Linked DNA regions of Homo sapiens: region 1 is linked to region 2. Evidence: fine-mapped expression QTL. A gene starts in region 2. The other region holds a variant in brackets. All regions are shown on one strand. Distances are between the middles of the regions. Region 1 overlaps KCNQ1 (potassium voltage-gated channel subfamily Q member 1). Region 2 holds the start of KCNQ1 (potassium voltage-gated channel subfamily Q member 1).

Region 1 (5,360 bases), 400 kb after region 2:
GCTGGAAGTGGGTCCCCTGGGCTCCTGCTCTGGGCAGGGCACAGTCCCACCCTCCCAGGTGGAGGCTGCCCACCTAGCCCTCTAGACAGACGCTCGGCCCCACTCAGGCAGGCGCCCCCCTCTCATCTCAGCCTCTCACAGCACCCTGTTGGCCGCCTCTTCCTTAGCCTGCTCAGCCTCCGTGGTAGGTGCTGTGGGTGACGACCACAGCACCCAGCCTTTGAAGCTGGCCCGGGTCCACCCAGACCCTAGCAAACTGGTTGCTCCCTCTCTGGCCATCCCGGGGCTTGTGCCCACGTCACCCAGCAGCATCTTCCCTGGGGTTGTCTCACCCGCACAGAACCCAGCCCTGGCCCACACCTCACCCCAAGCCTATCCGGCTGGATCAGCAGTGGGGCCGGGCGCATGAGGGACCAGGCCCGCCCGGCGCAGCCTAGGGTGCAGACCCCTGGAGTGCACGGCCAGGTGGACCGGGCCAGCTCCCGCCTGCTGCCTGTGCTTAGGGCCAGTGGTTGACGTTGCTGTGGCTGAGTCATCTTCGTGCCTCTCTCTGGAGCCATACGTTTCCCTGAAGCAGCTCTGCTGTTCAGCCCTTATCGCGTGCTGATCTGTTTGCCCCTCCCCCACCACTTCTAGGTCTTTCCAGGCCTCCAGGTACCCACGGTGGGGGAGGGTCTACTTCATTCTCCACAGAGCACGCTGAGGGGCTCTCCTGCAAGAACACCGCAGGCTGAAGGACCAGCCCTGTCTCCTGTGGCCACCAACAGAGCTGTGCGCCCTCCCCGAACCCTCACTCATGCTAGGGCCCCCAGGTCCAACCTCCTAGGGAGAGGGGTCCCCAACCTGGACTCCCTCACCTGCCCTAGTCTGCCCCTGGGGTTGGCCCTGCTCCACCCAGCACCTGCTCTGAGGGTGCCAGGGTGCCGGCCTGCCGGCCAGGGCCTTCCAGTCTCCCCATCAAGGCTGGATGGCCACTTCCCACCCGGGGCGGGCTCCAGCCTCATTCCCCAGCGGTGCTGTCCTTCCAAGGAGCTCTCAGATCACCTGGCTGTCCACTCGTTTGGGGCTTCTCTGCTGCCTCCGCAGCACTGCGAGGCCTCTGATCACCTACTCTCTGTGCTGGGTGCATTTCGGGTTCTGTCCTGCCTTGACCTCCCTGCCAGCTTTGCAGGGCAGCCACCCTGGCACATAGCTCACTGCAGAACCAGCCCCTGAGAAGGTGGAGGCCACATGGCTAGCCAGAGGGCACGCTCTAGGGCACTGCTCTGACCACAGAATGTGGGTGCAGATGGTGTCTGGGAAAATAGTGGTGTCCCCGCTAGGTTAAAGACATGGCATAATGGTTCCTGGGGGATGACAAAAAAACCCACCCCCACCCCCTTGCAGAAAGCATCACAGAGGCACAAGCCCTGTGCCCTGCAAGCCCCTCCTGGAAGTGGCCCAGCAGGGGCATCCCCTGCACACCCAGGCAAAGCCCAAGCCCTCTGCCTCCTCAACCACCCCAGGCCCTGCCCATGAGCCAGCCTTGCTGAACTCTGCCCTCTGTCCAGTTCTCCTCCAGACACAGTAGACATAGCCCCCAGCCTTTCTTGACCCTTAACCCAAATGTCCCCAAGCCTGGCCTCAAGAAGCCAAAGGCTGCCGCAAACCCAAATATTTCAGGTCCGGGTCCCTGGTGCAGACCCTGCCATGCGGGGATGTGGCACAGAAGGCCGGCCAGCCTGGGGAGCAGAGAAGGAGGAGAGGAGAGCTCCTGGCCCTGAGCCTGAATGCCTGTGGACACATATAGGGACTCCCAGCACGCACGGGATGGACTCCAATCGGCACACATGCACATTCCTTGCACACACACAGGCGCGACCGAGGGCCTTGCAGACATAGGGTGCACACGTGCGTGCCGCCTGCATACAGCATGCACTTGCAGAGACGGTTGGCACCTTCCCTTCTCTGGCCCCAAACCTGGGCCCTGAGGCTGTCTGCACACCTGGGTGCTTCCCACCACTGACTCTCTCGTCTGCCTTTGTCCCCGCAGGTGACGCAGCTGGACCAGAGGCTGGCACTCATCACCGACATGCTTCACCAGCTGCTCTCCTTGCACGGTGGCAGCACCCCCGGCAGCGGCGGCCCCCCCAGAGAGGGCGGGGCCCACATCACCCAGCCCTGCGGCAGTGGCGGCTCCGTCGACCCTGAGCTCTTCCTGCCCAGCAACACCCTGCCCACCTACGAGCAGCTGACCGTGCCCAGGAGGGGCCCCGATGAGGGGTCCTGAGGAGGGGATGGGGCTGGGGGATGGGCCTGAGTGAGAGGGGAGGCCAAGAGTGGCCCCACCTGGCCCTCTCTGAAGGAGGCCACCTCCTAAAAGGCCCAGAGAGAAGAGCCCCACTCTCAGAGGCCCCAATACCCCATGGACCATGCTGTCTGGCACAGCCTGCACTTGGGGGCTCAGCAAGGCCACCTCTTCCTGGCCGGTGTGGGGGCCCCGTCTCAGGTCTGAGTTGTTACCCCAAGCGCCCTGGCCCCCACATGGTGATGTTGACATCACTGGCATGGTGGTTGGGACCCAGTGGCAGGGCACAGGGCCTGGCCCATGTATGGCCAGGAAGTAGCACAGGCTGAGTGCAGGCCCACCCTGCTTGGCCCAGGGGGCTTCCTGAGGGGAGACAGAGCAACCCCTGGACCCCAGCCTCAAATCCAGGACCCTGCCAGGCACAGGCAGGGCAGGACCAGCCCACGCTGACTACAGGGCCGCCGGCAATAAAAGCCCAGGAGCCCATTTGGAGGGCCTGGGCCTGGCTCCCTCACTCTCAGGAAATGCTGACCCATGGGCAGGAGACTGTGGAGACTGCTCCTGAGCCCCCAGCTTCCAGCAGGAGGGACAGTCTCACCATTTCCCCAGGGCACGTGGTTGAGTGGGGGGAACGCCCACTTCCCTGGGTTAGACTGCCAGCTCTTCCTAGCTGGAGAGGAGCCCTGCCTCTCCGCCCCTGAGCCCACTGTGCGTGGGGCTCCCGCCTCCAACCCCTCGCCCAGTCCCAGCAGCCAGCCAAACACACAGAAGGGGACTGCCACCTCCCCTTGCCAGCTGCTGAGCCGCAGAGAAGTGACGGTTCCTACACAGGACAGGGGTTCCTTCTGGGCATTACATCGCATAGAAATCAATAATTTGTGGTGATTTGGATCTGTGTTTTAATGAGTTTCAC[A/G]GTGTGATTTTGATTATTAATTGTGCAAGCTTTTCCTAATAAACGTGGAGAATCACAGGCTGGGCTGGGCACTGCTCTCACCTTGGTTCCTGGGGCATCCATGGGGTCTCTCACAGACAGGACCCCTGCAGTTCCCCTGGAAGCAGTGCCCAGGTGGCTGTGGAATAGGAACGCTATGTCCGTGTACTGAGGAGTAGGTCAGGGTTCAGAGGGGCTGCAAGATGCCATCGAAGGCTCTAGCTTAGCGACGTCGCTCCTGTTCTGGGCCCTGGGCTGGCCCTGGCCATGAAGTGCAGTCACAGTGTGGTCACTGCCTGTCTTCCAGCAGACTCTATGCCCTTGCGGCAGATGGGCTCTGTCTGGGCCTCTCTGTCTGCCCCTCCCAGGCCAGGGTGGCCCTTCATCAAGGACCCACATGCTCCACTCTGGGAGCAGGCCCCACCCAGGCCCATTCCCCAGGATGCCAAGGGCTAAACTCTGGAGGGGTTGTGGTGCAAGGAAGGCCTGGGGCCCCTGAGGCTCCCATATGCTCACCCCTGGCCTCCTCCGGGCCTCTATTTCCCCATTGGTAACACGATGCTCCCTTAGCCTGTCCAGTTCTCTGAGTGGGACAGAGGGGCCACCACCCTGCTCGCCCTGACCCTGTTCCTGCAGCTTTCTGTGAGGCCCGCCTCTCCTAAGGTGGAAAGAGTGCCTCACTCTCGGCACAGACACACTCAACCGGGGCAGGTGCATCTGCTGTGCCCCCACCTCAGCTATTGGACCGTTTCTCAGTCCTTCAGGACTGCAGCCGCCTTCTGTCCTCTTTCCAGAGCCCATCCCGAAGTCTCAGGATATGAGGGCTTGGGGCATCTGAGATATCAAGGATGGGGCTGTCCTGAGTCCACTGGGGGCAGGAGGCGGCCAGCAGCAGGTGGCAGGGACAGGGGCCCCAGGTTTCTGTGTGGAGTAGGGGTGGAAGCCCTTGTTAGAGGGAAAGGCCCTGGGTCCCACCTGGTGCCAAGCCCACTGGGCCCGTGCCCCCAACCCATGGGTCTTGGCATCTGGCCTGGCCAGCACTGACCGGGATGGACGAGGTGGAGGGGCAGCACGGGGCTTCCCAGGCTTCCCTGGCCTGCACCCCTCCGGGAGGAGCGGGAGCAGCAGTTACTGAAAGGCAGGAACTGTTGTTTCCTTGTTGGGTAAATATTTGTGGAAACCCGGGGATGCCGGCCGGAAAGCAGGGCCCTCCACAGCGCCCAGGCCCCCCAGCCCCGGCCGCCCACCCCGGGACCCTGGCCCACAGGGAGCTCCGTGGGGCCGCCCATCTGGGCCGGGCGCGGCCCCGGCACCCAGCCCGCCTTGTTGTCCATATTATGGACTGCGCACAAAGTGCCCGAGGACTCCTCTCCTGGACGGGCCATTGCAGCCCTCTCGGGTGTGAAATGCAATTTACCTGAAATAAAGCCCAATTATGGAATTAGCTAATTAAAGCCATGGCGGAGGCTGGGCCTGGCCGGCCGAGTGCTCAATGCCCGCCGGTGCCCGTGGACTGAGGGAACAGATGGCGCCTCGGCCCGCCGTGCCGGCCGCATTCCTTCACTCTGTCCCCCGATAAGTGACCTAGACAGCACACGACCATCTGGTGTGTGGCACGTCCTGCGGGCCCCGGACAATGGCCCGGCAGACCTCTCTGCGAGAGGGCCGTCGCCCGGGCAACGGTGGCATGTGCAGCCCCGACCCATTCACGGCCCCTCCCGCAGCCCCTTTCTTCGGGCCCTTTGTGGCCTCACCGCGGCTGCCTGGCTGCTCTGGCTGAGGATAGCCATGAGTGTTTGTCCCCAGAGCCGGCCTTTGTCTCCAAATTGGGCTCCCTTATTGAGGTCCTCGGGGTCCAATGGGTGCCAGGAGCATCTGCTGGGGGTGACTGGGGGAGGGGCTGCTCCTGCTTCCTGGGGCACCCACCTCCTCTGCCAGGCTCTCCTCCCCCGTTGCCTGCCCCCAGATGTCCCCTCGTGGGTGCTGGGCGTGGCCATGGGGAAGCCCGTCTCTAGGGCTGGCACTGGCCAAGCCCGAGGTTCTCCCATCTTCGGGCCAGGGAGCCAGGAGGAGGAGGAGTCAAGGGCGGGGCCGACCTGCAGCCCCTCAGCTCCCACCCCAGTCCTGTCTGCGAAATGGGGA
Region 2 (5,360 bases):
ATCTGTATCACTTTTATACTGAAAATCTTGGTTCCAAAGGAATTTAGCATCATTCTTTGATACACACACACACACACACACACACACACACACACACACACACACAGAGTTCTTTGGGATCCTTTGGTTGAGTATTAGTGATCATATTGATCATGGCACTCCATCGTGTGACTGTACCACAGCACAGCTGAAGCGATTGAAGGACATTGTGATTGTCTCTAGACTTTTGCTAATATAAAAAATGCTGTTTTGACTATCATTATGTATATGTACTTTTCTATTTTTCCTACATATCTTTGGGTTATTTCCTAGAAGTGGGGTTTCTGTGTCAAATGATACATTTAGTAATATCGCTAGGTCTCTTTTCTACCAGTGATGAGGAGTGCACCTGTGCCTGCTGCCTCTCCCACAGAGTTGCCATCAAAAGTCTGGATTTTTGCCAATCTGATAAGCAAGCAGTGGTATCAGAGTGTACTTTTCATTTGCATTTTTCTTGTTATAAATGAGGTTGAACATTTTTTCATAAGTGCAAAGGTCATGAACCCCATTTCCTATGAACTGCTCATGTCTTCTGCTCCCTTTTCTATAGGACTGTCTGGCAGGTTCCTCACCTCAGTTTTGATGTTCTTTATGTATCAGTGATATTAATCCTTTGTGATCGAAACTGCAAATACTTTTCCCATTTGGTCATTTGTCTCCTTTACTTTGCTAATGGTGCTTCTATTTTAATTTTTCTTATTTTATCTGTTGCTTTTGGATTTCAAGTCATAGTTGGAAATGTTTTCCCGATTCACAGGTTCTTGAGGAATTGACCTGTACATTCTTGTAGAATTTGCATGGCTTCATCTCACCCTTTACACTTGAGCCTCTGATTCATTTGAGATTTATTCTCGTGTGCGGTGAGATGGACCCAAGGTATGCTTTTTCTTTCTTTATGACTGTCCAGTTGTCCAAACGCTGCTTATTCAAAGCTCACCTTCCTCCTGCTGAGGTGGGAGGGGAAGGCAGAGACTCCATGCAGGTGTATGTATGTTCACCCGGAAAGTAACTGCTGAATGCGTGCTGTGTGCCCTGCAGAGCTGACTGACTGCCCCCATCTTCTGACCCGCTGCCCTTCTGCACCTTCACTGATATGCTTCCCAGGAAGGTACCCTCTCCTCGGCCTCCCTTGTGTTATCACAGCGCCCAGCACAAGCTGGGACCCACTCCATCCACTCTTGCTGCAAATACAGACTGTGCACTCCTGTGTGGCACCTCACTAGGGTGGGGAGTCAGGCGTCAAGGGCCTGGGCTGGACTCCGTCCACGATAAAAGAGCAGACTTTTGGCAGGGGGTGGTAGATACATCAAATTGACCCAGGGTGCTCAGGGACGACCTGGAAGTGTCACATGAGTTATGGGTCTCCTGGCGGGGCGGAGAGTCACCGCTGAGCTCCACCTTTAGTCCCTGCCTCAGGGCTGTGTGCAGTATCCTGAAAAAAGCCGGTCTCTTCTGTTGGCTGCCCCCCACCCCCCCCCCAAGCCTGAGACGTGCTGAGACCCAAATGCCAGTAGCGGGCGGGAGGCAGTGCAGAGACCTGTGAAAATCTTCCGATGTGACCAACCCACCCCCACCCAGGGGAATCCACGGGGCGCAGCGGCAGCGCGGTCTCGACGGTGGGGAGGACAAGGCGCCCATTCTCCAAGTTACTAGGGTGGCGCAAGCGCCTCTCCCTTTAACTGCCCAGGCAGCCCCGCCTGCTATGCCCGGCAGTCAAACCAGGTCCAGACCCCGGCTGTGCCGCCCCCACCCCCCAGCAGCCCTGCCGGCTCCCCACCCACACAGCTCCCACTGGGAGGTACCTGACAGTGGTGGTCCCATCTCACCCTCCCGGTCCAAGGGCCCTGGTGGGAAGCGACCCGAGCGTATTCGCCGCCCGCAGCTCGCGCGCCTGGGCACCCGGGGGCGCTCACAGTGATCGCGGGGCCAGCACACCCTCACCCAGGACATCCCTTTCCTCCCCCCAACCCCAACTCCGGAGTGGCTCAGAGGGAGGGAAAGTAGATGCCGGCACCCTACCCCGCCCCTCCTGCCCCCGCTGTGCCGTTCTCGGTCGTGGTATCGGCCAGGCCTTACCCCTTCCTCCCTGGCGCAGCTGGGGTCCTCCTCCGGGCCAGGCAGAGCAGGCGGGCATCAGAAGTGGGGGCCAAGCAGGTGGGTGAGGGCAGGGCAGGAGCAAGCAGGGGAGATGCAGACGGGGCGGGGCCAAGCAGGTGGGTGAGGGCGGGGCCAAGCAGGTGGGCGGGGAGGGGGCGGGGCCAGGCGGGGTAAATGCACACTGGAACGGGGCCAAACAGGTGGGCGAGGAGGGGGCGGGGCCAAGCGGGATAGATGACACGAGCGGGGCTAAGCAGGTGGGCTCGGGCGGGGGTGGGGGTGGGGGCGGGGGCGCAGGCGGGGGCGGGGGCGCGGACAGGCCAAGCCAGGGGGTGAGGCGGAGGCAGGGCCAGGCCGGTCCGTGGGGAGAGGGCGGGCCAAGCCGGTGGGCGCGGGCAGGGACGCCCTGTGCGCGCCGGACCGGCGGGGGCGGGGCGTGCAGGCGGGGGCGGGGCACGCCGTCCCATGGGACCGGCCCTCGGCCACTGCCCCCTCCGGCCCCGCCCCGAGCGCCCGGGCTGGGCCGGCAGCGGCCCCCCGCGGCGGGGCTGGCAGCAGTGGCTGCCCGCACTGCGCCCGGGCGCTCGCCTTCGCTGCAGCTCCCGGTGCCGCCGCTCGGGCCGGCCCCCCGGCAGGCCCTCCTCGTTATGGCCGCGGCCTCCTCCCCGCCCAGGGCCGAGAGGAAGCGCTGGGGTTGGGGCCGCCTGCCAGGCGCCCGGCGGGGCAGCGCGGGCCTGGCCAAGAAGTGCCCCTTCTCGCTGGAGCTGGCGGAGGGCGGCCCGGCGGGCGGCGCGCTCTACGCGCCCATCGCGCCCGGCGCCCCAGGTCCCGCGCCCCCTGCGTCCCCGGCCGCGCCCGCCGCGCCCCCAGTTGCCTCCGACCTTGGCCCGCGGCCGCCGGTGAGCCTAGACCCGCGCGTCTCCATCTACAGCACGCGCCGCCCGGTGTTGGCGCGCACCCACGTCCAGGGCCGCGTCTACAACTTCCTCGAGCGTCCCACCGGCTGGAAATGCTTCGTTTACCACTTCGCCGTGTGAGTATCGCCACCGGCGACGGCCGGCACGAAGGTGCTTCCTGAGAGCTGGTGTGGGGGAGCTCTGTCCCAGCGCCACCTGCCCCGTCGGAGCTGCGACCCCGGAGCAGAGGAGGGAAGGAAGTGGGGAAACGCAGAAACACAAACTCTGCACTCTCCCTTGAAGTTCAGAGGCGCTGCTGTGTCTGGGGGTGCGCATCTTCTCGCAGGCCCGGCGTGGGGAGGGAGCCGGCTGGGGAGGGGACCACCTGGAGCCCAGAATTTGGCTCCACACCTCCGGGAGGGTAGTCCAGGTGTGAATCCTTCTGGGAAGAGAAGCGTGCTGGGGAGCGCACCCTTGGGTGCAGTAAGATAACTCCTCAAGGTCGGCTGAGACTCGAGGCTCAGGAGCCCCCAAGAGAGAAGGCCCCTGATGTCCGGTGCCGCATCTCAGACCCCCTGAGGCCCAGGTGGACTCTGGGGCAGGGGGCTGTCCAGGATAGGAAGGTGACGGTGGCGGTGCTCCCTGAGGGCTCAGCATGCCACGGGCCGTCCCCACGGGCCCCACATTAACTAATTGAACCAAGCTCATGAAAACCTGGCTTGATGCAGAGAGCGGAGAGGCACGTTTGCAGCTCTCACTAAGAGGCAGCTGTGCTCCCGGAGAAAGCAGCGCTGGTAGCAGAGGCACCTGGCCCCCCTGTTACCAGGTGGTTCCAATTCCCGGTACAGCGTGCCTGAGCAGGGCTGGGCACTGGATTTCTCAGGGACAGGCCTGGGAAGTCACCTCCGGGAAGGTCCAGGCTGCTCTCCTCCATGCCTGCCTGGGGCCTTCCCCCGCTGCCCCAGTGGCCCTACTTCCTGGCTGCCCAGCCAGCGGCCTTTTGGTGTGGTGCCAGCCTCTGGCCTGGGAGCCTCTACCCAGACATCCCATGGCTGATGGCTGTGGGGCTCACCTGAGGGCTGAAGGGTGGTCTCCCTGAGCGTCCTCAGGTGGAAGCATCTCCTCTGCCTCGGGCAGGCTCAGTAGAGAACTGGCTGGAGGGCATCCAGAGGCCTGTCCATGCCTGCTGGCAGCTGCCACCAGGGCCTCAGGGCGGGTGACAGCAGGAGCCAGGCCCCAAATGGCTTCAAGCATCGTCTCAGGTGAGGGGGTGGGGTAGGGGTCGCAGGGCTACTGCCTTCCTTGCTAAGAGGTGGCCTTCCACATCAGGAAGGGGAAGTCTTACCCACCTCCCTCCTCAAAGATGTGGTTGGGGGGTGATCTTGGAGACTTTTCCCCACCCCAGCTCCCAAGCCCCTGTCTCCTGACATGTCAGTGGGTGCCTGAGCCACAGCCGCTGCTGGTCTGTGAGAGGAGCTGGCTCTGCTCGTGGCTGCAACAGCGGGGGCTCGGCTTGGGGTTTGGGAGATATTTGTGTGCAGTGACCCCAGGGGAACCCAGTCCGATGCCACTGTGCAAATGTCTAGCAGATGCCAGGTTCACAGGTGCTGTGTGCTGGTGGCCACCTGCCTCCCGGACCCCAGACTCTCTGAGATGTCCAAGGGTGGGAAGACCTCCTCAGCCAGAGGCCAAGGCAAAGTGCCCGCAGACCCCCTCAATTCTCACTTGTATTCAGGTTTGTGGACACATGCCTCCGGGCTCACTGCAGCCACCCGTGTGGAGGAAGAGGAGGAAGAGGGCTCGCCACGCCCCAGAGGAAGTCTCTGCTTGCACTTGTGTTTTCTTCCTCATTTGGATTGTTTAGGTCTCGGAAGTTTGCTCAGCAAGAGTCTACCTTCGCCCAGCCTCCGCAGAGCTGGCAAGGCAGGGGTGGCTTCTGGGGACAGGGGCAGGATGGCTTCTGTGAAGGGGTGGCCAGGAAAGGGATGCTTCTGTGAAGTGGCCAGATCTGGGGCTGGTCCTTTCCAGTTCTGGGTCCTGTCCTTGTAAGACGTGTGCCTGGCCCTGGGAAGTTGTCATGAACAGCCTCCAACCCAGGTACCTCCATGTGGGGTGGGACTGGAGGTGGACCCTGACTGGGCAGGACATGTGGCTTGGTGGGGGCCTGGGAGATGCGCTCCCACCCTCAGTGCCCTAGGAGGTTGGCAGGACCAGTCTCTTGAGGGGAGACCTGGTCATAGAACCAGGATGGCAGAGTAGCTGGAGGCCACCTGCAGCCTCACGAAATCAGGTCCAGCCTTGCGCCAGTCCAGCCTTGTGTTGCTGTAA

Evidence for each region.
Region 1: its variant is fine-mapped to the expression of KCNQ1 in whole blood (TOPMed, PIP 0.97).

Annotation. Positions count from the first base shown.
Region 1 is chr11:2,845,735-2,851,094 of GRCh38, forward strand. It overlaps KCNQ1 (potassium voltage-gated channel subfamily Q member 1), which reads left to right. Exons shown (of 16, transcript NM_000218.3): 16 at 2,033-3,371. The coding sequence ends at 2,269. All of the region lies in intron 2 of KCNQ1-AS1 (KCNQ1 antisense RNA 1), which reads right to left. Among named protein-coding and RNA genes, the nearest start is that of KCNQ1-AS1, 13 kb to the right of the region's middle. The variant A/G (reference allele first, on the strand shown) is at 3,201.
Region 2 is chr11:2,442,316-2,447,675 of GRCh38, forward strand. It overlaps KCNQ1 (potassium voltage-gated channel subfamily Q member 1), which reads left to right and starts at 2,693. Exons shown (of 16, transcript NM_000218.3): 1 at 2,693-3,169. The coding sequence starts at 2,784. It overlaps TRPM5 (transient receptor potential cation channel subfamily M member 5), which reads right to left and starts at 2,199. Exons shown (of 29, transcript NM_014555.4): 1 at 2,116-2,199. RefSeq lists silencers at 2,493-2,602, 2,613-2,682.